Linked DNA regions of Homo sapiens. The protein of the gene in region 1 interacts with the protein of each later gene in a biochemical or structural test. Each region holds a gene or a part of one and is shown on either strand. Other genes may lie near its edges.

Region 1 (7,737 bases):
GCCTTCATGAGGCTGTGCTTGAGCTGGTCAATCTGCAGAAGGTCCAGTGAGCCTGGCTGTCCCCTCCAGGCGGTGACCGCAGACCCGTGGGGCCACCCCCGACCGCCCCGGCCTGCAGACCCCGCCAGGCCAGGCGAGGGTGGCCTGGTTTCCCGGGGGCAGCGGGCGCACCTCCAGCTGCAGGTCACGGTTCCGCATGAGCGCGGCGCCCTTCTCCTCACTCTGGTGCGCCAGGCGCATGGCCAGGTCGTAGTTCTCCTCCTTGCAGCGCTTGAGCTCGCGGCTGCCGGCCTCGCACTCCTCCTTGAGCCTCTGCACACGCTCCTGGTGCTTGCGCAGCAGGCTGTCCTTCACCCGCAGCTCCTTGATGAAGTCATCTTTGGAGCTCAGCAGCGCGGTCAGGTCCTGCACCTTCTTCTGCAGCTTCATGACCTCAGTCATCAGCAGCTGAGTCAGGCCTGACTCCCCGGACGCGTCTGTGGGCCAGGCCAGTGTCAGATGGTGCCGTGTTCCCCGGTGGCCCAGCTCCATCACGCCCTGCGCTGTGGCAGGAGCTCAGGGCTCCTAGGGATGGGGGCCAGGCAGAGGACCCAACACCACTGCCCGCTCCCCGCCAGCGCCTCCCCTGTCGGCCCCGCCTCCCCCGTCACTCACCGATGATCATGGAGAAGACGCGGGCCGGCTCCTTGCCTGTGACCTTCTTGTACAGCTGCGGGTAGTAGAGCTCCAGGCTCTCGAGGAAGGCCACGTAGCCCTTGTGGCCGGTCCGCTGCAGGATGTCCAGGAGCACACCTGCGGGCCAGAGAGGCCTAACTGGGGGCGGGGCACAGGCGAGGCAGAGGGCTGGGGTGGGTGGGCCTGGGGGCAGGGACAGGTGGAGGCTGGCATGCAGATGAGGTGTGCCGTGGTCTGGGTCTTGGATGAGGTACCCTGCGGGTCTTGGTACTAGGCTGGGGACCAAGTGCTGCCCACCCGCCCCTTGGCTGTCTCAGGAGCCCCCGCTGCGGTGGGAGCCCCGCTGCCCCTCTTGGCAGCACCAAGCCGGCAGGAGAGGCTGGGGGACGGGCCACGTGCCAGGGTTGAGGTTGGGCCTCAGTCAGAGGCCAGGGGCAAAGCCAGGCGGGGCTCTCCTGGGGTTGAGGGTCAGGGTGGCAGAGCGTGCAGCCACCTCCGAGCTGACTCTGTGGTTGGGTTTGGGGCCTGGGGCCCGCGGGGCAACACTGACCCACTTTCCGTTTGCGGATGACCAGGTTGGGGTCGCTGAGCACCTGCTCCTCATCATCGGGGTTCAGGACCTTGCACTGCCGCAGGTAAGGTGTGATGCGTGAGGGGTCGATGACCGAGGTGAGCGTCACCCGGAAGCCCTCCAGGACGCTCCAGCACTCGTCATCGTTCTCGTAGTCCGACATGGCCTCAGCAGGCAGGCTGGGGAGTGTGGGGCAGTGCTGAGAGCGATGCCGGCTCCTGCCCCCACCCGGGCCCAGCTCCCACTCCTTCTCAGACGCTGGGCCAGGGCTCTCGTCAGGGCATCGAGGGGGATCAGCCCAGGGGCATCCAGGAGAGGTGCCCAGCTCCATGTCCCATCCCCACGCTGGATCCCCCAGGGAGGCAGCAGAGACACAGTGACCCCGCTCCCCACCAGACCAGCCGAGGGCCCCTCCGCAGCCTTTCCCAGCCCTTGCTCCTGCCCGTTGGCATCCATGTCACCCAGATACGCAGCGGGGGAGGCACAGATGGGGTCTGAGAGAGGAACTCCCCCTACAGCATGACCCCCTCTGGCCTCTGCCTCCTGGACACTCCCATCACGCCCTGGAGCCTGCAAGGTTAGCCACCTCCATGGCTGGAATGGGCAGAGGAGCTGAGGGCAACTGCCTGGCACTATGGCCAGCCCAAGCTGGGTGAGAGCAGGTTGGCCAGTGGCCCTCCCACCAGCACAGCAGCTGGGGGAGCCGGTTCTTGTGGGACTTCCTCATTCCCCTGACCGACGCCTGCTCACATCCCTGGCTGTGCCCTCCCTCCTCCACGGCCGGCTGCTGATGATGCAAGAGTGGCCACCCAGCCCTGCTGCAGCTGCGGGGTCGCTGCACTGGCCGGGAAGAGCTGCCCACAGGAGCGTGTCTCTGTCACCCCCTGCCGGCCCCGCAACCCTGGGAGGGGCTGTCAGTGTTGCCCTTGGCTGGCCAGGAGTGCTGCTGCGGTGTTTTCTCCAGGTTGAGGTGCCGGGCACCAGTGAATCCCTGGACTCTTCTCCTGCCCCAGATGAGGCCCGGCCCCCATCCCAGTGGCTGCAACAGAACTACCCATGTTGGGACCAGCCACTGCTGTCCCTTTCTGCCAGCATGGTGGGGGCCTCAGCCGCTGAAAGCCACTCCCTCTGAGACTGGGACTGCGGCAAGGCTGGGAGCAGCCACGTGGTCCTCAGACAGCCTCCAGCCCCGCTGGGAAACGCTGGTTTCCAGCCCAGAGGAGCTGGGTCACTGCTCCTGGAGACATAGTTGCCCCAGGCTTGGTCTTTTGAGGCATTTCTCAACTTCCCGCTGCACTTTGTCACCCCATTCAGGACAGTTTTGACAGACAAGGGACTGAATAAAAACACTGGCCACACGGTAGACAGTCCTGGGAACACTGGGCCCCTTTCCTGCTTCCCCAGCTTGAAATGCAGGGTCCCATCTGCCACCGTAATTCCACTGAAATGAACACATCTCCGCCCAGGGGCCGTGAAAGGGACGGGGCCGCATGGCGGAGGCTGCCTGGCTGCCTGTGGGAAGCCTCAGGCTGCTCTGGGGGATCAGTGCCAGGATCCTGAACTAGGCCAACGCCAACCTTCCTGGCCACCTTTCAGAAAGCACCAGACCCACCCACCTGAGGGTCTTCCAGGAGCCACCTGCACTGCAGACACACCAGGAGCCTGGGCCGCGGAGCCTCTGGGAGATGCTGCCCGGGGCTGCAGGGAGGGAGGAGCACGCCGGACGCCTGTGCACTTCCTGATGGGTTCTGCTTAACTCCACAGTCCCGCCAGTCCTCCCACAGGGGGACAGTCCCTGGTGACCTGCTTTCTGATTCGCCCAGCCCAGGAGGCCCCAAGAGGCAGACGGAAGTGGAAGTCCGCTGCCCTCCAGAGGAAAGCTGCTCCCAGCCCTCCCAGCCTGGCCGGGGGCTGGGGGTCCTGGGGATGCCCCAGAGGCCCAGCCCTGGCACCTGGCAAGTAGAAGAGACAGCAGAGACCCCCAGGGGGCTGGACAAGGCCAGCCCGCACCCAGCCACTTTGACCTGGTCACAGGCTTCTGGAGACTTCTTCAGTAAGGCATGCTTTGCTCTGTGCGAACACCCTCGCCCTCGCCAGCATCTCAGGACAGCGGGGCAGGGCATGTGCAGGGGGGCACACAGCCACACGGCATGGCCAGCACACGCCTTGGTCACAGAAGGGCTGCAGCCCACCTTATGGAGCCCAGGAGGCCACAGCAGCCTGCCAGGGGCCATGGCATCGGCCACCACCCAGCTGCACACGGGGGAGAAACGTCCCTTCCAGAAGTGTCGTTATCCTCGTTATCCCCATCATGAGGCATCCCTGCTCTCCACCAGGATGCATGTGAGGACTGAGGCCACTCTCGGGGTCCCCCAAACCAGCTTCAGAAGAGCCGGTGACAGCAGGGCACAGCTCGGCCCCCATCCAGGGACAACGGACAGCAGAGTCTGCCCTGAACTGTGCACTTCAGCGTGTGGGCTGCCAGAGCCTCATCCCTGCAGGCTTGGGAACCCCCAGGCCCCGCCTCACCCGGTAAAGCTGGTTGAACTGAGTTGCCACCCAACAGGTTCGAGAAGGGGCCGCCAGGCTGGAAGGCAAGGAAGCTGGTGTGGAGCTTGCCTAACCGTTCTCAGCCTCCAGCCCTCAGGCCTCTGTGCGGACAACGTCTGACATCACACATTAAGGAGCGGACAGTTAGGGGTCCTCCTGGGCTCTCGGGAATGCCACATTCCAGGGGGCCGTGCCCCTGCTGGACCCCTCACCATCAACATGAGCGAGTGTGCAGGCCGGGGCCATCCTGGGCCCTGCCAGGGAGCGAACCGGAGCTGGCACCAGGCCCTCATGACCCAGTGTTTCCCCAGCGTTTAAAACGCGGACCTTAGTGACTTCCCTGTGGTGTGTGTCCTTAGGAGTGAACACACATACCATGTTCTCTAACCATATCGGAAGCTAAAAATCGGTAACAGATATCGGCAAAATCTCTAAATATTTGGAAATTAAATAATATACCGCTAAATAACCCACAGATCAGAGTGGCCCCCAGACTAGGCACCAGACTAGAGAACCAGGCACAGCAACACATACTCAGGAGTGAGGTCGGCCATGGGACCGTCCCGTCTGCCAGGTGCCCAGGGCTGAGGCCCCACAGTGGCTCCAGTGAAGGATCGAAGCCCAGATAGCCAAGGGCCTGGGGGCGCTGCTGCCACAGAGACAAAGGAAAGGGAGCTAGGGGACAGACGGAGAAGATGGGGGCTAGTCTTATGCCAATAAAGGCCCATGCAAAAGGAACAGTGGAGGGTGGGGGCTGCCGCCGTGTCGGGGTAGCCAGGTCATCTGTTCCAGGGAACCCCCTGGGTCAGCCAGGGCAGCGCGAGGGCTGGCAGCCATCTGGGGAGGGTGCCGGCTAGCCTGAAGGACAAAGCCACAGATGCTTTCCAGGAAATGGGCGAAAGAAAGCCTGCTTCTCTGACAGGAGGGCAGCCGGGGTACGGGAGGCCTTCCAGGACCCCAGCTCTGGGCCCCCAGCACCCTGCTTGTTCCCGAACTGCCTGCACTAGGGTGGCTCAGCCACTAGGCAGCAGCCTGACCCCAGCCAGGTGGGGGGTCCCTGTACACTGCCCGGTACCTCAGGACAACAAAACCACAACAGCCTGTGTCCAGCTCCACAATTAAAAACAGAACTTTATTCCTCCAAGTGTTCAGGTGTGCACTTGGGGAACAGCCATGCTCCATGCCACACAGTCAGTCGGCAGGCCCGCCTCTGTTCACTGCGGACCTGGTCAGTCAGCGGCCAGCAGATACCTGGCCTCTGGCTGCCTCTCTTGCAGGCTGGGGGTGGGCTGTCTCTCGTCAGCAGGGCCACGGGCTTCTGAGAAAGTGCTTGTCCTGGAACACAGGAACACCAGGTGGGGGGTGCCCTTGACCCCAGCCAGACCCCAAGCAGGGCTGGGACAGACAAACAGGAACCAAGACCACCCCAGCGCCGGCCACGCCCAGTCTGCTTGGTAAACCTGACCCACATGCGCCAAGGGCCAGGCCAGGGCACCAGGGCTCCAGCAGTGAAGAGCCAGCCTGGTGGCTGCGGTTGGGGATGGTGATCGTTTTACAAGCTGGGAGACGACGCAGCAATGCACGGGAACAGGGCACCACCAGAGCACAGCGGCCAGGGAGGAGCCCAGACCCCAAAGGCAGGGAATGAGCCTATGGTCAGGGGCACAGTGGTGCCAAGGCCCGAGGCATGGGTGGCCAGCAGGAAGGATGTGGGTTAAATGCTTCTCCCCCTGGAGGGCCTCCATGACCCTGGACCTGCCCACCTAACCCAGCACACCTGCTGTGAGCGCCAAAGAGCCGAGCAGAGGCCAAGGCCCCCTGCCATCTGGACACCACTCTGTCCCCTGGGTTGTAGGGCAGTGGCCTCCCCACTCAGGACTCACCTGCTGCTCACACCAGCCGCCTCCGCTTCCGGGTGTGCCTGGCATGCCGGGTTCTGAGCACGTCCAGGTCGTCAGGGTCATTAGAAGTATCCAGGCAGGAGGAAGCAGAGCATTTACCAGAGTCTGGGGCTCCCTGAAAGAAAATCCAGGCAGTGGGGACAAGAGTGACACCCCCGAGCCATGATGGACGGGGAAGGGACGGGAGTGAGGAGGGGCCCTGTGGGTGAGTGTCCCACTTGGGACAGGGCACCCTCAGCTCAGGCGGGAGCTGCTCCAGGCACTCCTGGGGCCACACGTGACTGTGCACTCCCTCCCTCGGGGGCTCTGACCCCATCCAAGCCATCCCTCTGGTGGGCCTCCCACTCCCCCATGGGACAGCCATCACACCCAGGCAGGGCAGGAGGCTGTACATGGATGGGGCACAGAGGGCCTCTTCCCCTGGCTGGCCGGGGTCCTCCCCAACTCTTGGACATTGCTTCCTCCCACACTTCAGCCCAGGGACTTGCGAGACACAACCCTGGGGAGAGATGGAAGGCCCTCTGCCACACTCCCTATGACAGGCCCACAGGTCCAGCTGAGGCTGCCTGCTTCTGGTGGTTTCTCAGGGAGGCCAGCCTCCCAGCTGCTGCAAGTGGGCACCCTGGCACCAGGGGAGGAGGCCTCTCTGGGGGCCCCAGCTCCACATGCTTTCCAGGGTTCCAAACATGGTTTCACCTACAGAGATTGGAAAACTCTCCCCAAGGACACTCAGAGAGGTGACAGCAGAGAGGGACCTTTGGGACCCCAGAAATCCAGAGACAAACACAGCCACCACCCTCCACTGTGCCCATGGCCCACCCTGGGAGCACACGTGTGTGTGGCGTGTGCGGCTCAGAGCCGGGTCAGCGTCCATCCCAGAGCTTCTCGCTCAGACAAGGCCACCTGGCTGGGCAGCATCAGGATGGCCGGAGGCTCCTGCACGAGAATGAGGCCTCTCTTCTCCCCTTTTCCACACTGCCCCAAAGGGAGGCCACTTCTGCAGAATCTACACGCAACTGGGCAGGCCAGGAACCAGCTTCCTCCTCCTAAGACACCCAGCAGCCAGCCTTCCTGCCCGCAACTTCCACCAGCCCCCACCCCACTGCTCCAGGCAGGCGAGGGCACCCCAGGGACCGCCGCCTGCCATGGGGAAGTGGGGCTGGGCGCCCACCCTACCTGAATGGGGCATGTGGCTGTCGTGCAGCCCGGCTGCCCGTCCCTGTCTGCAAGTTCCAGCTCACTCAGGAGGTCTTCATCCTCACTCTCAGAGCCCACCCTCGAAGGTACTGAGAGGGTGGTGCGGACGCCTTGGGGGGCCAGGGTGGCCAGGAGCGCAGGGAGGGTGAAGGCTGCCAGGAACCGCGCCCGCAACAGGAGGTAGGCCGGGTTGTCCTGGAGCTGCCCCCGCACCAGCCCCAGTGAGGCTTGCAGTGCTCCGGCCGGCCGCTCAGCCTCGCCCCCCACCACCAGGGAGGTGGCCTTGTGCTCCAGGGCCTTCTTGTGGAGTAGGAGACCGGACAGAGCTCGCAGGCTGCACAGGGCTGGGGGCTGATAGGGCAGTCTGCTGCCCAGAAGAGGCACACGCACCCCCCGCTGGCCCCCCAGCCACTGCTGTGTGGCCGCCTCGCCCTCCTGGGACAGCAGGCCCAGGTCCAGGGCCCCCTTCTCAGGCCCAGGCTGGGGTAGGGGCGGCTTCTCCAGGTCCAGGGCCCCCTTCTCAGGCCCAGGCTGGCGCAGGGGCAGCTTCTCCAGGCCCAGAGGCCCCCTGGGCTCCTGTGTCCCTGAGGGGGACCCCGGCGTCCCCCTTGGCTCAGTTGCTGGGATGACACCACCGAAGGCTGGCAGCCTCCCGGACCAAGGGGGTTCTGCTTCAGGAGGGTCAGCGTGGGAGGACGTCCTGGGCTCAGGTATCTCCCTGGCCACCTGGGCCTCTCCAGGGACAAAGGCCACACTGCCATCCGCTTCTGCAGGACTTTGGGAGAGGGCGTGTGTGGGAGGAGCTGGGGTGTCTGTCCTGCAGGAAGGCTCCGGTTCCCTGTT
Region 2 (7,346 bases), on another chromosome or scaffold:
TGTGGCCTTGGGCAAGTCACATAACTTCTCCAGGCCTCACTTTCCATTCCTACATGATGAAGAGGTTGGACAGATGGTTTCAGACAGAGTCCCCTCAAACTCTTCCTGCTTATGTGACTCCATAGACGGGGAGATGGACAGCAGCAGCGCCTAAAACGATGGCTCTGGGGGTGGAGGGCCAAGCCTTGTGCAGGCTCCCAGAGGCCCAGGCCCTTGCTCACCCTCTGATGGGGCCTTCATCCTCAGACAGCTAGACTGGAAGGGAGTCAGTTGTAGTTTTGAGATAAAAGGGACAGGGAAGGAGCGATGGTGAACATGGGCCATTTCTCCTGAGGCCCATGGGCATCTGCTGGGTGCAGGCCTACTCAAAGACTAGTGTGTGGAGGGGTTGGGAGCCCCTACAATACAGGGGAAAGTAATTATTTAGTTTCTGTTTGAGTATCTCGAGGCCAGAGAGCTCATTACCTCCCAAGTTAGCCCACTCCATTTTCATAAAATGTTTGAGCCAAAAACCTTCTGCTTCCAAACGCTCCACAGTGTGGTCCAGCTTAGGCCAGGGTTGGTCATTCTTTCGTTCATTCATTTGGCCTTTATTGGTGTGTACTGTGGGCCAGGCCTTGCACCAGGCTTTGGGGCCATAGATAGGAGAAATAAGATTCTGTCTCTGGCCTTGGAGAACTACGTGCTCGACTAGTATCCCAAAGCCAGGTACATGGGGCTGCTGGATTTAAGTGATTTAGCTTGAAAAAAGGATTCCAGGCCCAAGTAAGCTTGGGAACCATTTTATTAAACACAGTAAAATAGATTTATTTGCAACAAAATTTCTCTAAGCTTTTAATATGCAAATGCACACTGAAAATTCTCCAAGGGGGTGGGTATAAAAAATATACTATATTTCCCACACTTATTAATAGAGAGCATTTGGGGAAATGCAGTTCTAATGTTTTTGTTTGTTTGTTTGTTTGTTTGACCAGTGGAACTTGGAGAAGGCTTCACGGAGAGGATATTTGAGCAAGGCTCAATAAAAGTTGAGTAGGAGTTTGTCAGTGAAGACAGGAAGTCTTAAGGGAGACCGATTAGAGTTCTATGCCAACTATGCTCAGGTCACTCTGCATGTACCGTTTCACTTAGTCTTCAAAAGTCCTGATGTGGGGGACAGAGCCAAAGAGGTCATCAAAAACCTCTAGAGACTCCTAGAGGTCTAGCCCCTCCCTTCTTGAATCACCTTACATCTGGGCCTTATTCTCCAAATCTTTACCTTTAAGTCCTGGCCCCACTCAACCTGGCCTCTACTCTGGCTTAAATCTAAACTTGTTGTAGAGTATCCGGACCTGATCTCAGTCTTAACCCCTCATACACCTTGGCCTAACCCTCGGTACTCAAACCTGCCCTCTCAGCACTTTGGCACCCTAACTTATACCACTCTATTAGGTTTCACCCTCACCTGTCCAGCACATTCTAGCCCCCGTACTCCTCTTAGTCCTGATGCACATCTGATCCGGTCTCCGCCCCCACAGAACCCCCAGCCTGCCAGAGCTCAGCTACCCGGTTTAATACAGACCCATCCTCGCGACCTCGCCCTCAGTCTGACAGTGGCCCTGCCTTTGCCCAACTCTGATTCCGGTTCGTCCACAACCCTGCCCCAGCCCAGTATCTGGTCCAGTTCTGATCTCACTTGTTTCCGCCATCCCATCCGCATCCCCGACTTCTCCCTAACCGCGGACCAGCCGGTACTCCAGGTCTGTCTCAGATCCCTCAGGGTCCGGACTGCCCAAGGCCCCGCCCCCACGGCCCCGCCATGCGGCGGCCCCGCCCCTCCCTGCCCCGCGTTACTCCTGATAGGGCCCTGACCTTGCTGGCGGCCCCGCCCCAGGACCATTCTGACTGGGCCTGGCCCGCGGTCCAGCCCTGACCCCACCCCCCGCCCGGCCCCACCTCCAGCCCGGCCCCGCCCCTTCCCCAGGCAGGCCGGGTAGCGCACCTGCAGCTCGTCGAAGGCGTCGTCGATGCCGGTGACCTGATGCTGCTCGTGCAGTGCAGGCTCGTCGCAGAAGAAGCAGAGAAGCGCGCGGTCCGTGAGGCAGAAGAGCTTGACCTTGTCGTGCGCCTGGCAGGGTCGCGCGGCGCGGCGCGCGTTGAGGATGGCGTCCAGCGGGAAGGAGCTGTAGCGCTCCACGATGTTGGCCAGCTTGAGGCTGGGCGCCAGCGCGGGCTCGGCGAACGTGCGCCGGCACTCGGGGCAGTCGCGGGCGCCCTGCGCCTCCTGCCGCACCCAGTGCTCCGTGATGCAGCGGCGGCAGAAGTAATGCTCGCAGCCCAGGCTCACCGGGTCCTGGTAGATGCTCAGGCAGATGGAGCACAGCAGCTCGTCCTTGAGGCTGCACGCCATGGCGCCAGGGGCAGCAGAGAGGGGGGCCCGAGGGGCAGGGGGGCGGCTGAGAGAGCGCGGCGCTGTCGGAGGCAGCACCGAGGGCTGGGCGCGGGGACGAGGCCCGCACAGGCAGGGGTAGGAGCTACCGGAGAAGGGAGGGGGTGCTGTCCGGAAGGAGGGTAACGCGAGGAAGGGGTGCGCGGCTGAGACTCCGTGGGACGCCAGCCCGGGAGGGCAGTCTAGAGGTAGTGGGCAGCTCAAGGCGATGGGCGCTGGGAGGAGGCTGTGAGCGGCTGAGGGACGGAGATCCTGACGGGGAGGTTCTAGGGGGCGGGGCAGTCCTAAGGGATAGGAGCTGGGAGAAGGGGATCCCGGAGCGGGGTGGAGCCCTTAAGGGGGTCGAAATCCCGGGGTGGGGGCGGTGCGGGGAGGGCGAGAAGCTGGGGATGGGGAATCCTGGGGGAGGGGGCAGCCAGGCCGAGCCGTACATTGGCTGTGACCGGCAGAGAAGAGGAGGGGTGCCGGCCCGCTCAGCTGCCGGATCCCGGCCCCAAACCCTGGCCCAGCGCGACCCCTTACCCCCGCGAGCTTAGCAGCCACCGCTTCGGTCCAGCGCAGCCTCTCAACCCGGAACCAGCCGAATCCGAGCTGCCGGTGGCCGCGGCTGCCTCCCCGCCCCCGTGGGCGGGACCCAAGCAACTCCGCCCCCGCAGCGGGCGGGGGAGGGGCGGGGCCACCAGCCGGTTGACCCCGCCCCACCCCCACCATCCTCCAGCTCCCAGGGAAGCGAAGCCCAGCTGTTCCTTCGGGGTGTGTACTTGGAACTGCATCCAGGTCTCGCTTAGGGTCCCCGCGGCGAGGCGGAGCAGCTAATTTGAGAGCACAACAAATAAACAAGGAGCATCTTTCTGGATCATCGATTTGAAGATGTAGAAAAAATCATATTTTGTATTAAAACGAACAAGAATATATTTGGAATACAACTTCTGCATAAAATATAAAGATAAAACTCTTGAAATGCCCTGCTTGCTTAGAGCGAGTTCAAGGCCCTCACACTCCTAAGCCCTGGGGTCCCATTTCCTCTTCACTTTCTTAAGGAGTGCTTGGGGAGAAGTTTGGAAAGCCCTGGCTAACATCTGGCCCCGGAGGCTGCCTCCATTGGCAAACAATTCTGGAGTGCTGTATTTGTGTGTGTGTGTGTGTGTGTGTGTGTGTGTGTGTAAGGCGGTGAGGGGTGGAGCAGGAGAGAGGGAGAAAAAGTAATAGGAGAACTTGTCTTGTGTGCCAGATGGAGAGGGGATAAGGGATTTCTAGGCAGAGGAGACAGCCTGTGCAAAAGCATAGAGGCGTGAAAGGGGAGGGCGCAGTGAAGGAAGTGCTAGTAATTCTGTACTGTTGGGGGTGGGGTGGAGAAGGAGCCTGGGTGGGCTGGAGGGCATTGTGGGTCATGGTAAAGAATTTCTTGAAGGCATGGGGCTTTCAGGCAAGGGAATGACCTGGTCCGATTGGGTTTCAGGAAGTCTTGGAGATAATCATTATACCATCTGCAAGGTGAAGAAGACAGGGAGCTTTTCCAATGTGTCTGCGGATGCACAGCACTCAGCACACAGTAAAGGTGTGTAGCTGAATAACCGCATCAACGCCCTGGGTTGCAGGAGGAAGGAAAGACTGGGCACCCCTAAGGTGCTGTTGTCATCGTGCCTGCAGGAGGTGAGACCCGAACTGGGGCCTCAGCAGTGGGTAAGGAGAGAAGACTAGGGTATTGCAAGTACAGACACGGTGACATTTGGTGATGGTTGGATACGGGGGTGAGGGAAATGAGCCATAGAGGGTGGCTACCAGTTTCTGCCTCCTCCAGAAATATCTTCATTGGTGTTAAACTTTATTGAGGTACAGTTTATGAAAAAGCTCTCAGTTTAGTTCTCTATGGTTAACACTTTCTCCATCACACCCTCATCTGGCCCAGAATCTCCATCATTGCGAGAAAAATAGTTGGTTGCTCATGCAACAGCAGTTTCTCAACATTTTCTTATGGGCAGAGCCCTGATTTTGGTCAGGTGGCCCCCTTCCCCAAGTGACCCAAGGAAGGCTGACCCCAGCCCATTTCCAGGAGTGAGTCTTGTTTGGTCCAAGTCCATTATGGTGGTCTCATGGAGTGAGTCTTGTTTGGTCCAAGTCCATTATGGTGGTCTCATTCCTCTTGCCAGTGACGGTTTGGGCAGGTCCAGCCTGAAAAACTAAAGGGGAAGCCTATGGCAGAGAGGGGTTTTCAGGAAATGGTCTCTTTACTTTGCAAAACAGTCTGCCCCCTTTGCTGGGATATGTTTGGTGGCAATGCTTGGAATTGCAACAGCCATCTTGCTCCCAGTCTGAGGATGCAGCAAATACAGAAGGGAGGGCAAGGCCAAGAGAGTCCTAGGGAAGAGAAGCTTTTATTCTGATGCAGAGTCTGGACTTCAGGATATGTGAGATGGTCCATCTTATTGCATAAGCCAGTTTAACAGTAGTGCATTGTCACTTTGCAACCCAGAGAATCCCAACTGATATACTGACGTGCACCCCTAATGAGGGGGTGGGGAAAGTGAACAGGGCAGAGTCTAAATTATTGAAGCATTTGAAATGAAATGAAAAAAAAAAAGGCTTGATGATGGATGAAACAGTGACTTCATTATTCAACATGTATTTACTGATGCTGACTCCAAGCAGGTCTTTGTGAGGAGGTGGAATAAACTATGCTCCTTGCTCCCAAGGAGCTGGCAGTCTAGAGGGCAAAATCAATGAGAAATTCTTATCAGGCACAGTAGGGCTTGCTAAGCATTCTCACATATATTATTGGATTTCAGTCCCAAAGCAGCCTTAACTAGTTTATATTATTATCCCCGTTTTATAGAGGAAGATACCAAGGCTCAAATAAAGGAGATGTGATGGAAATTGCTAGCTGTCCACTAAACTTCATCCTCCTGTTCTTCTATGTAGTAGAGTAGCAGTCGGAGGAATGGCTGGTCCACTAGAGATCATACATCCCAGCTGTTCTTGCAGCCGAGTGAGACTTGGTGACTAAAATCTTTCTAATAGAACATAAATAGAAATAGACCTTAAGGCATGAAGCTTTTGCTCTCCCATGCTCCATTTTCTCTTCTCTTGAGTTGGAACATAGATGTACCAGGGACACAGCTTCAATAATGCTTCAAAAGGGCTGATGGAGCAAAGATATGGGAGGATCCTGGGTTCCTGAATGACTGCATGAAGTACAGCCACCCTGACATGGACTACAGAGTGAGAAGTAAACTTATTTTCTAAGAGCCATTGTATTTTGGGTCTTTTGTTGCAGCAGCCCAGCTTTCTCCATACTATTTTGCAGCTGTTTTTATTATTTATTTATTTGAGATGGAGTCTCGCTCTGTCACCCTGGCTGGAGCACAGTGGCATGATCTTGGCTCACTGCAACCTCTGCCTCCCAGGTCCAAGTGATTCTCCTATCTCAGCCTCCCTAGTAGCTGGGACTACAGGCGCATACCACCATGCCTGGCTAATTTTTGTATTTTTAGTAAAGACAGGGTTTCACCATATTGGTCAGGCTGGTCTCAAACTCCTGACCTCAGGTCATCCAACCGCCTCTGCCTCCCAAAGTGCTGGGAATACAGGCATGAGCCACTGCGCCCAGCCAATTTTGCAGCTGTTTTTAGAAGAGGCTCTGGTACTATTTTACTCTATTGTCTAAATCCTTTCAGTAGATAGTCTTAATATGTAGGTCTAATCTCCTCCAAAGGACATAGTATGTGGTTTTCTCTGGCTGAAAGTCACAGACTCTTTTTTTTTTCTTTTGAGATGGAGTCTTGCTCTGTTGCCCAGGCTGGAGTGAAGTGGTGCAATCTTGGCTCACTGCAACCTCCACCTCCCAGCCTCAAGCAATTCTTGTGCTTCAGCCTCCCGAGTAGCTGGGATTACAGGTGCCCGCCACCACGCCAAGCTAATTTTTGTATTTTTAGTAGAGAGGGGGTTTCACCATGTTGGCCAGGCTGGTCTCAAACTCCTGACCTCAAGTGATCTGCCTGCCTTGGCCTCCCAGAGTGCTGGGATTATAGGTGTGAGCCACCGTGCCCGACCCAGTCTCTTCTCTTTCACTTTACTTCCCAGTGTTCAGTCCTTTTATCCTCTGAGCAGTTCTTCTCTTGACCTTATTCCATCTCCATTAAGATGCAGAACACTAAAACTGTTGATTATCTTTACATTTGGCAAGTCATTGCTCTCTCCACATCTGATGTGGTTGAGTGGTCTGAACTAAGACTTAGAGATCCTGACTGCAGTGTATGCCATCTGCTTCCATTCATACTCCAGAAATTAACATCAGGAATTTTTTTTTCTGGAAAGCTATCCAAGAGCTATTGTTGAGTGAGAAAAAGAAAAGAAAGACCCAAATACACTGACACATAGACACCCACAGACTTAGACACAATCACAGGCATTATTTGCATAACAAAAATTCTATAGAACTATATTCTAATTGTGTTCTTTTGTGGGCTGGGATTATGGGGGACTTTAACTTTTACATTAGATAGCTCTGTTTATTATATATATTTTTGTAATCAGAAAAAATAAAGAAAATTGATCCTCATTATTTATGGATTCCATATTTGCAAAATCACCTACTTCTAAAATTTATTTGTAACCTTCAAATCAATACTTGAGGCACAATTGCTATTATTTGTGGACATACTTATGTGCAGTGGTGAAAATCTTGACTTACCCACACATATGTTCCCAGCTGAAGGTGAACAAAGGGACACCCTGCCTTCTTGTCTCAGCTGTCATAGTGTAAACAAGTATTCTTTTTGTGACTTATTTGGTGCGAACCGTTCTCATTTTTTGTGCCTTTTTGTTGGTGATTTTGCTATTTAAAATGGCCCCAAGCATTGTGCTGAAGTGCTCTCTGGTGTTCTCAAGCACAAGAAGGCTGTGATGTGCCTTAAGGAGA
Region 3 (7,000 bases), on another chromosome or scaffold:
CTTACAGTGTCCTCCTCCCATCCCTCCATAGTGGTTGGAAACAGCAATCAGATTATAGCGGCAAGGACCTGCATTTGGATTAATTAAGAATTCCGACATATCCAAGTCACTGTTTAAAAAAGAAACCAAGTTAATTTTTATGTTGTCCCTAAATGCAATGAATTCTATTCCCTTCTGCCATTGTTGTTTGACATACATATATATATCTATATCTATCCATCTATATATATCTATCTATATATATATATATCTCACTAAGGAAATTATCATGAGTCAAATAACTTACAAAACAAATCATACATGTACCTCTGAGATATTAATGTTTTGGCAAACATTTGTTTATGGGTTGAAAATTTTAAAATGCTTCATTGAGTATACTGAAGAGATATCTGCACTCCCCATGTTTGTCGCAGCAATGGTCACAACAGCTAACATTTGGAAACAACCAAATCTTGTTGATTTGACGAAACTATGTGTTGCAATGTTGATGGAACTAAGTGTCTATCAACAGATAAATGGCTAAAGAAAATCTGGTACATATACACAATGAAGTACTATTCAGCTATAAAAAGGAATGAGATCCTGCCATTTCCAACAACATGGATGGAACTGGAGATTATGTTAAATCAAATAAGCCAGGCACAGAAAGACAAACATCCCATGTTCTCATTTGTGGGATCTAAAAATAAAAAAAAATTGAGCTCATAGACAGACAGAGTAGAAGGATGATTACTAGAGGATGACAAGTGTGGTGGGAAGGTAGGGGAGATGTAAGGTGGGGATGGTTAACGGGTTAAAAAAAAAAACGAATGAATAAAACATACTATTTGATCACACAACAGGGTGACTATAGTCAATAATAACTTAATTATACATTTAAAAATAACTAAGAGTGTGACTGGATTATAACACAAACGATAAACGCTTGAGAGGATGGATACCCCATTCTCCATAATGTGACTATTTCACACTCCATCAAAACATCTCATGTACCCCACAAATATATACACCTACTATGTACCCACAAAAATAAAAAAATAAAATAAAATAAAAATGTGGAATGTTGTCATTCAGATAAACGTTTTCATGCTAACACATTTAACTCTCAGTATACCAGGAAAAACAGTCATCACTATTGACCATCTGGGTCCAGTAGATCTTTATTTTACAGTCAATTTTAGAAAGTAATTTATGGGCAGGGTCAGAGATTAAAAAAGAGGAAGTGATTTATATGAAGAAAAATACAGGAATAGTGAAAACTTCCTTAGAAGTTTTAAAAAATATTAATATATCAAACCTTAATTTTTATTCTACATTTGCTGTCTTTGATGACCTATATACCCGAAATGGGCAACATCCTTTGAATGTAACTGACTAATCAAAATCTATCATTCAAGAACCTGGAAAACGACTTCTTGTAAATAGCTTATTATTATTTCTGGTTGTTCTTCTTGTATTTGCATCATTAAAAAGCAATAATGATTCTAAATTTTAAATACATCTCTGATAGATTCTAGTTTGTCATTACTTCTGATTCTTTTTTTTTTTTTTTGAGAGGGAGTCTCGCTCTGTCGCCAGGCAGCCTGGAGTGCAGTGGCGCGATCTCAGCTCACTGAAATCTCCGCCTCCTGGGTTCAAGCGATTCCCCTGCCTTAGCCTCCCGAGTAGCTGGGACTACAGGCGCGCACAACCATGCCCGGCTAATGTTTTTGAATTTTGGTAGAGATGGGGTTTCACCACGTTGGCTAGGATAGTCTTGCTCTCCTGACCTTGTGATCCACCCACCTCGGCCTCCCAAAGTGCTGGGATTACAGGCGTGAGCCACTGTGCCCAGCCCTGATTCTTTTTCTTATACTTACATTGCCAAATGCTATATTCTTGAAAACTTATGGCTCACTATTTTGTTAAAGAGAAAATGATCTTTTTTTCACTCAATAATTACAAATAATTTTAAATTTTAAATTTATAGCCACCAATTAGAATGAGTAATCCAGTGAATATTTTGTTTTATGTAATCTATTTCCTTCTAGTTACCTTTATAGATACACCTGCCTTTAGCAATTGTCTACTTACTAACTGTATCAAGTACATTTTGGTGTACAAATATCACAGGATATGAAATAATACCGCTGAAAGTTCTTTTTGCAAAATGGGATAGTACCAAGTACTTGTACAAAATATTGTGTGATGAAGTCCTTCTGCTGAATAACTAAGTGACGGGGAATACAATGTTCCCTTTTTGTCATTCTGAATTCTCAACTGTTAAAAGCAGGGGAAGAAAAAAAGAGAGATAAAGTGTGAAGATGTATACAGACTTCTTTGTATCTTTTTACAGACAAGATCAGGGTACGTTCAAGGTGGTATGGCCATAGATATATCTTTTTACAAATATGATGTCATATAATGGCAATAGGAAAACTGAAGGATAATGCAATAGGGATGATTTATTTCACTACTGTGTTATCCTTCTAAGCAATTCCATTGTTGTTTTATTTTAGTCTTTTTGAAAACAGCATATTTAGGGCTGGGCACAGTGGCTCATGCCTGTAATCCCAGCACTTTGGGAGGCCAAGGCGGGTGGATCACTTGAGGTCAGGAGTTCGAGACCAGCCTGGTCAATATGGTGAAACCTCGTCTGTACTAAAAATTAGCCGGGCATGATGGCGGGTGGCTATAATCCCAGTTACTTGGAAGGCTGAGGCAGGAGAATCACCTGAATCCAGGAGGTGGAGGTTGCAGTGAGCCGAGATTGCACCATTGCACTCCAGCCTGGGCAACAGAGTGAGACCCTGTCTCAAAAAACAAACAAAAGAAACACCAAAAAACCCCAACATATTTAGGAGTAAGTGATGAGTAATGATGAAGTAATTCCTAGGATAAACAAAATCACTAAGTACCATAAAGTATCTTAGATTTATAAATGAGACCAATTAACCCATAGGTAATATAACACAGAAGGATTTTTATTGTTTTTATTTTTTTAAAGTATATTTTCTCTTTGATCTTTGGAAAATCTCTAAGAAAAAATAAAAATTTTGAAACACTGATCCTTATAAACTGTTAGAACTACTCAAAAACAAACTTGAAAGCTGAAATTGGGTCCAATGGCACCTGATGTTTACTAAAGGATAATAACAAAAAGCATCAAATAAGTTTGAAAGAAGAGTTGCCCAATGCTTATAAAGTACAATTAAAGCTTACTTGATAGGAAAATCAACTAAGGTATCCAACTTGTCTCTCATGTATCGACTGTAAGAAAATCGCTTGAGATGTACTACAAGTACTGGAGGCAGGGACCATAAATCCAATTTCTTTGTGGCTTGCTGATGTTCTTTACAATTCGGACAATACCTAAGAATAAACAGAAGTATTTAACACTTGATAGAGGTACAAACAACCCCCATTAATGAAAATAATAAACAAAAATGTTTGGAAAGTTCTACATTTATTCAGTGGGCAATTATAGTATGCCTAATATGTACCAGGTTGAAAGCAACTCTTATTATTTTTATTTTCAAGACATTTTCCAAATAGGTTAAACCATTACAAATTAATATACAAATAAATACTTAAAGACATAATGAGGGCTAGATTATTTCTCTTTTAGTATGCAAAAAAGACATAGGTCACAAATCTGTGCTGGAAGACAGGTATTAGAAAATCTCAAATCTGGGCTCTAATGGAATAACACCACAAAATATATCACTACATTTTTCCTAAAAAGCTTCTCTCAAAATGATTACATAGCTAAAATTTCTTGGAAAAAAGGTAACTAAAATGAATTAATAGTATAATGGCTATTATGAAAAACACAGTAATAAAATTAAGGCAACACTGTAATCGTATTTTTTAAGACATTCCCATCCCTCTTAATAGGCTACAACTTATATAAAGAATCCTTTACTATTTAAAACATCAAAGAGAATTTAGTAATTACTTTTTCAACTTGATGTGGCACATATCTCAGAATAAATCCTTAAAGAAAACAAAAACAATTATTTAATTTTGTCTCTTACCAGGGATCTTCAGCACCTAGCTTTTCTTTTGTTGTAAAAAGTTCAATGCAATCTTTTAATTTCACAAAGGGTTTTTTAGGAGGTTTATACTCCACACTTTCATGTTTTTCAAAGTCCTAAAGAGAAGTATTTCTTGAGTTAAGAGAACAAATGAAACAAAACTCATTTTAGTGATACCATCTTACTATGAATAATAATGAAAACTCCTAAACTTTCTCAAAAGAATCATAAAGCTTATTTCAGTTGAGATTTATATACTTCTAAATAATTCCTGTACACTTCTATATGGATGACCAAAACACGTTCAAAATGAACTCTGAACCTTTAAAAAAAAAAGGTATTTTTGCAAAGACTTTTTTTTCTAGTTCATGACCAATTTTTTACTGGCAAAATAAACATATTTGGTGGAAGCAAAGAGTGTAACACAACAGTATGATTATCTCTGGTAATCACATAAAGTAAATCAAGGAAAGGTAAATAAGTGAGTGAGTGATGACTTACCTCAGCAGCATTTTCATCAAAATATCTTTTTTTCAAATCAGGATCCCAATCCAAAGCAAGAAAAGATCTTTCTAAGGTGGAAAACATATTTTTTCTTTAAAATTTAATATGTCTTAGTATTAAAGTATATTTTAATGTTAGGATATACACCAGAATAAACAAACAGCAATCTTTTCTACTTGTACTGGTGATTAGGGCAAACAGCAGTTTCCAAGCCATTGAAATAATTTAAGAGTTTAAAAAAAGATAGAAAACTGAAGCATGAGTTCAATCTCCATTTATGAAACACAAACACACATTTTAGTCTACTTAGATATTAAGTCCTTTCATGTAAAATTTGAGATAGAAAAGTAAATGGTATATTTCTTGACAGAGCTGAATTTCATGGTTTTCACCTAAAAAAAAAATAACATGCTCGGCTTGTTTAATGTTCAAGCCATTTTTCACAAATACTTACCATCTAGCCTAAGCTGCCTATCATCAAATCTTATATGCCTGGTATCATCTTTGATGTAGTTGATATCAGTATTGCCTAAGTTGTTGAACTGGAATGTAAACAATCGTTTTTTGTGTCCCGTGAGTTGACCTTTGCAAGTATCCTCAGTACATAATCCATTTTCAGAATCATTATCTCCTCCAACTGAATCTTCAGACTGACTGTTTTCATTCTCTGAGGGAAGTTCTTGATCCTGGCTGGATTCATCATCTGGCTCATCTGTTTCCATTTCACCTAATTTTAGATATTAGAGAGCTTTAAATAAACCCAATGCTATATTTTTAAATTATTAATATTATTAATCCTAGGTTTCCAGGTATTTTTTAGTTCTTTAATTCCCATTTTCTTAACTTTTTCTCTGAGGCAATTATCTAAGTGAAACATTTGTACAATTTAACAGAAAAGTCTTACTTGGTGAGCCTTCTTCATGTATGCCATTTGGGCCATTCCCATTAATATTTTGGTCCTTACAGCAGTGTAGGGATCCTTCAGTTTCTTCAGTTTCAGTAGATATTTTGACATATCGGCTTAAGTAAAATCAAAAATCAAACAAGTTCAGTACTACAAAGATAAAAACTTTTAAAAAGTTTTCCTTCTATCAGTAAAACAAAACTTTTTAATGCAGTAACAGTGGTCACTTAGTAGATTCAAAGATAAATTCAAACTTTTAGTACCATAAGTATAACTGACTAGTAATTTGTTTTGCTCATCTTTATAAAAATAATTAATATGTTACCTTTTAGGTTAAATGTTAAATGTTTGTTGCAAATAATTTCTCAACTTACCCTATTTAGATGGTATATATTGTTGCTAAAAACACTTATATTTGTATAATGTGATCTTTATATATGGGTTATGAAACTATAATAATTAGATATGCAAGAAAGAATACTAAATATACCAGCTTTCAAGGATAAAAGGGATCAAATGACATTCTTGATAACTTCATAATTCAAATCAAGGGATTTATTCAGGAAGGCAAAAAATAGGCTGCCTTACAATACTATTAATCATGAACTGGTAATGTATATAAAGAAATGAAGCATTTGACATTTGTTATTTCACAGTGCAAACATATGGCATTTGACATTTGTTATGATTTCACAGAATGAACATGTAACACATAATTATTATAACATAAATTCCTATGTCCTTCTAACTGTAAACTTTTGGTTTAAAACTGCTACAGACTTCGTGCTTCCTGGGTTTGAAATTACCTCCATAATATGTTTTACATGAATAAGAAAGTGGATTAGGACTATAATCTGACTATGAACAAAATTGAGATAATACAGACTTGAATAATTATATTCCAATAGTACCTTATGTGTTTATTTTTATTAGCTATTTTATATTTTATTCCCATATTTATTTTGTCAATGTAGAATTGTCTGGCACTTACCACATTCTCAAGAGCAGGAGATTATAAAGTTTGTCTTCAGTATTGTTTCGTGGTACAGCCATAAGAAAGGGCTGACCAAAAAGTGAAGAACCAGTATGGTGGGTATAACTCGAGTGTCTGAATTTTTCTCTTAGGCAAACAGGAATAATCACGTGCTCTGTATCTTCTGTCCTATTGATGTTAATTTCAAACCTACAAGGACAAAACTGACCATAAACTCTCAAAATTTTATGTTACTTCTATTAATTTTTTTTCAAGTAATATTTTGCACAATGAGTTTTATACTTACACATAAATATCATCCCGTTCCATAATACTACTAAGGTTTTCATCCATAGCGAATATTCTGTGAAATCTATGATTGTATATATCAGTAACTATCATCTAAAAGGAAACGAATTTCTATTAAGCTGGTTTTACAGCACTGAGAAACTAAATACCAACTTATATACTTCAACCCCAGAAACATCTTACCTTATCTGCAGGTATTCCTGACAAAGCAGACAATGCTGTACAAAGATCTAATATGTTTCCAATTTTGGGGACAACCACTTTGTACTAAAAAACAAAAAAAATTGTAATGAA

Evidence for each region.
Region 2: of the proteins of CARD9 (region 1) and TRIM62, one has a biochemical effect on the other in vitro, tested with the Homo sapiens proteins (4 studies listed by BioGRID, with this or other methods).
Region 3: of the proteins of CARD9 (region 1) and USP15, one has a biochemical effect on the other in vitro, tested with the Homo sapiens proteins (one study listed by BioGRID).

The regions. Positions count from the first base shown.
Region 1 is NC_000009.12:136,370,670-136,378,406, forward strand, and holds the start of CARD9 (caspase recruitment domain-containing protein 9), read right to left. Parts: upstream 3,001-7,737; 5' UTR 2,863-3,000; intron 1,426-2,862; 5' UTR 1,410-1,425; coding exon 1,226-1,409; intron 793-1,225; coding exon 655-792; intron 477-654; coding exon 172-476; intron 33-171; coding exon 1-32. Other genes in the region: SNAPC4 (snRNA-activating protein complex subunit 4), read right to left, coding at 5,687-5,812, 6,874-7,737. UniProt on the Homo sapiens protein: Adapter protein that plays a key role in innate immune response against fungi by forming signaling complexes downstream of C-type lectin receptors.
Region 2 is NC_000001.11:33,179,044-33,186,389, forward strand, and holds the start of TRIM62 (E3 ubiquitin-protein ligase TRIM62), read right to left. Parts: upstream 3,001-7,346; 5' UTR 2,390-3,000; coding exon 1,982-2,389; intron 1-1,981. UniProt on the Homo sapiens protein: E3 ubiquitin ligase that plays a role in antifungal immunity by mediating 'Lys-27'-linked ubiquitination of CARD9 downstream of C-type lectin receptors; leading to CARD9 activation, followed by activation of NF-kappa-B and MAP kinase p38 pathways.
Region 3 is NC_000012.12:62,389,404-62,396,403, reverse strand, and holds part of USP15 (ubiquitin carboxyl-terminal hydrolase 15), read right to left. Parts: intron 6,974-7,000; coding exon 6,890-6,973; intron 6,800-6,889; coding exon 6,705-6,799; intron 6,622-6,704; exon of another isoform or gene 6,608-6,621; coding exon 6,416-6,607; intron 5,541-6,415; coding exon 5,425-5,540; intron 5,248-5,424; coding exon 4,975-5,247; intron 4,589-4,974; coding exon 4,518-4,588; intron 4,149-4,517; exon of another isoform or gene 4,133-4,148; coding exon 4,017-4,132; intron 3,352-4,016; coding exon 3,202-3,351; intron 110-3,201; coding exon 6-109; intron 1-5. UniProt on the Homo sapiens protein: Hydrolase that removes conjugated ubiquitin from target proteins and regulates various pathways such as the TGF-beta receptor signaling, NF-kappa-B and RNF41/NRDP1-PRKN pathways.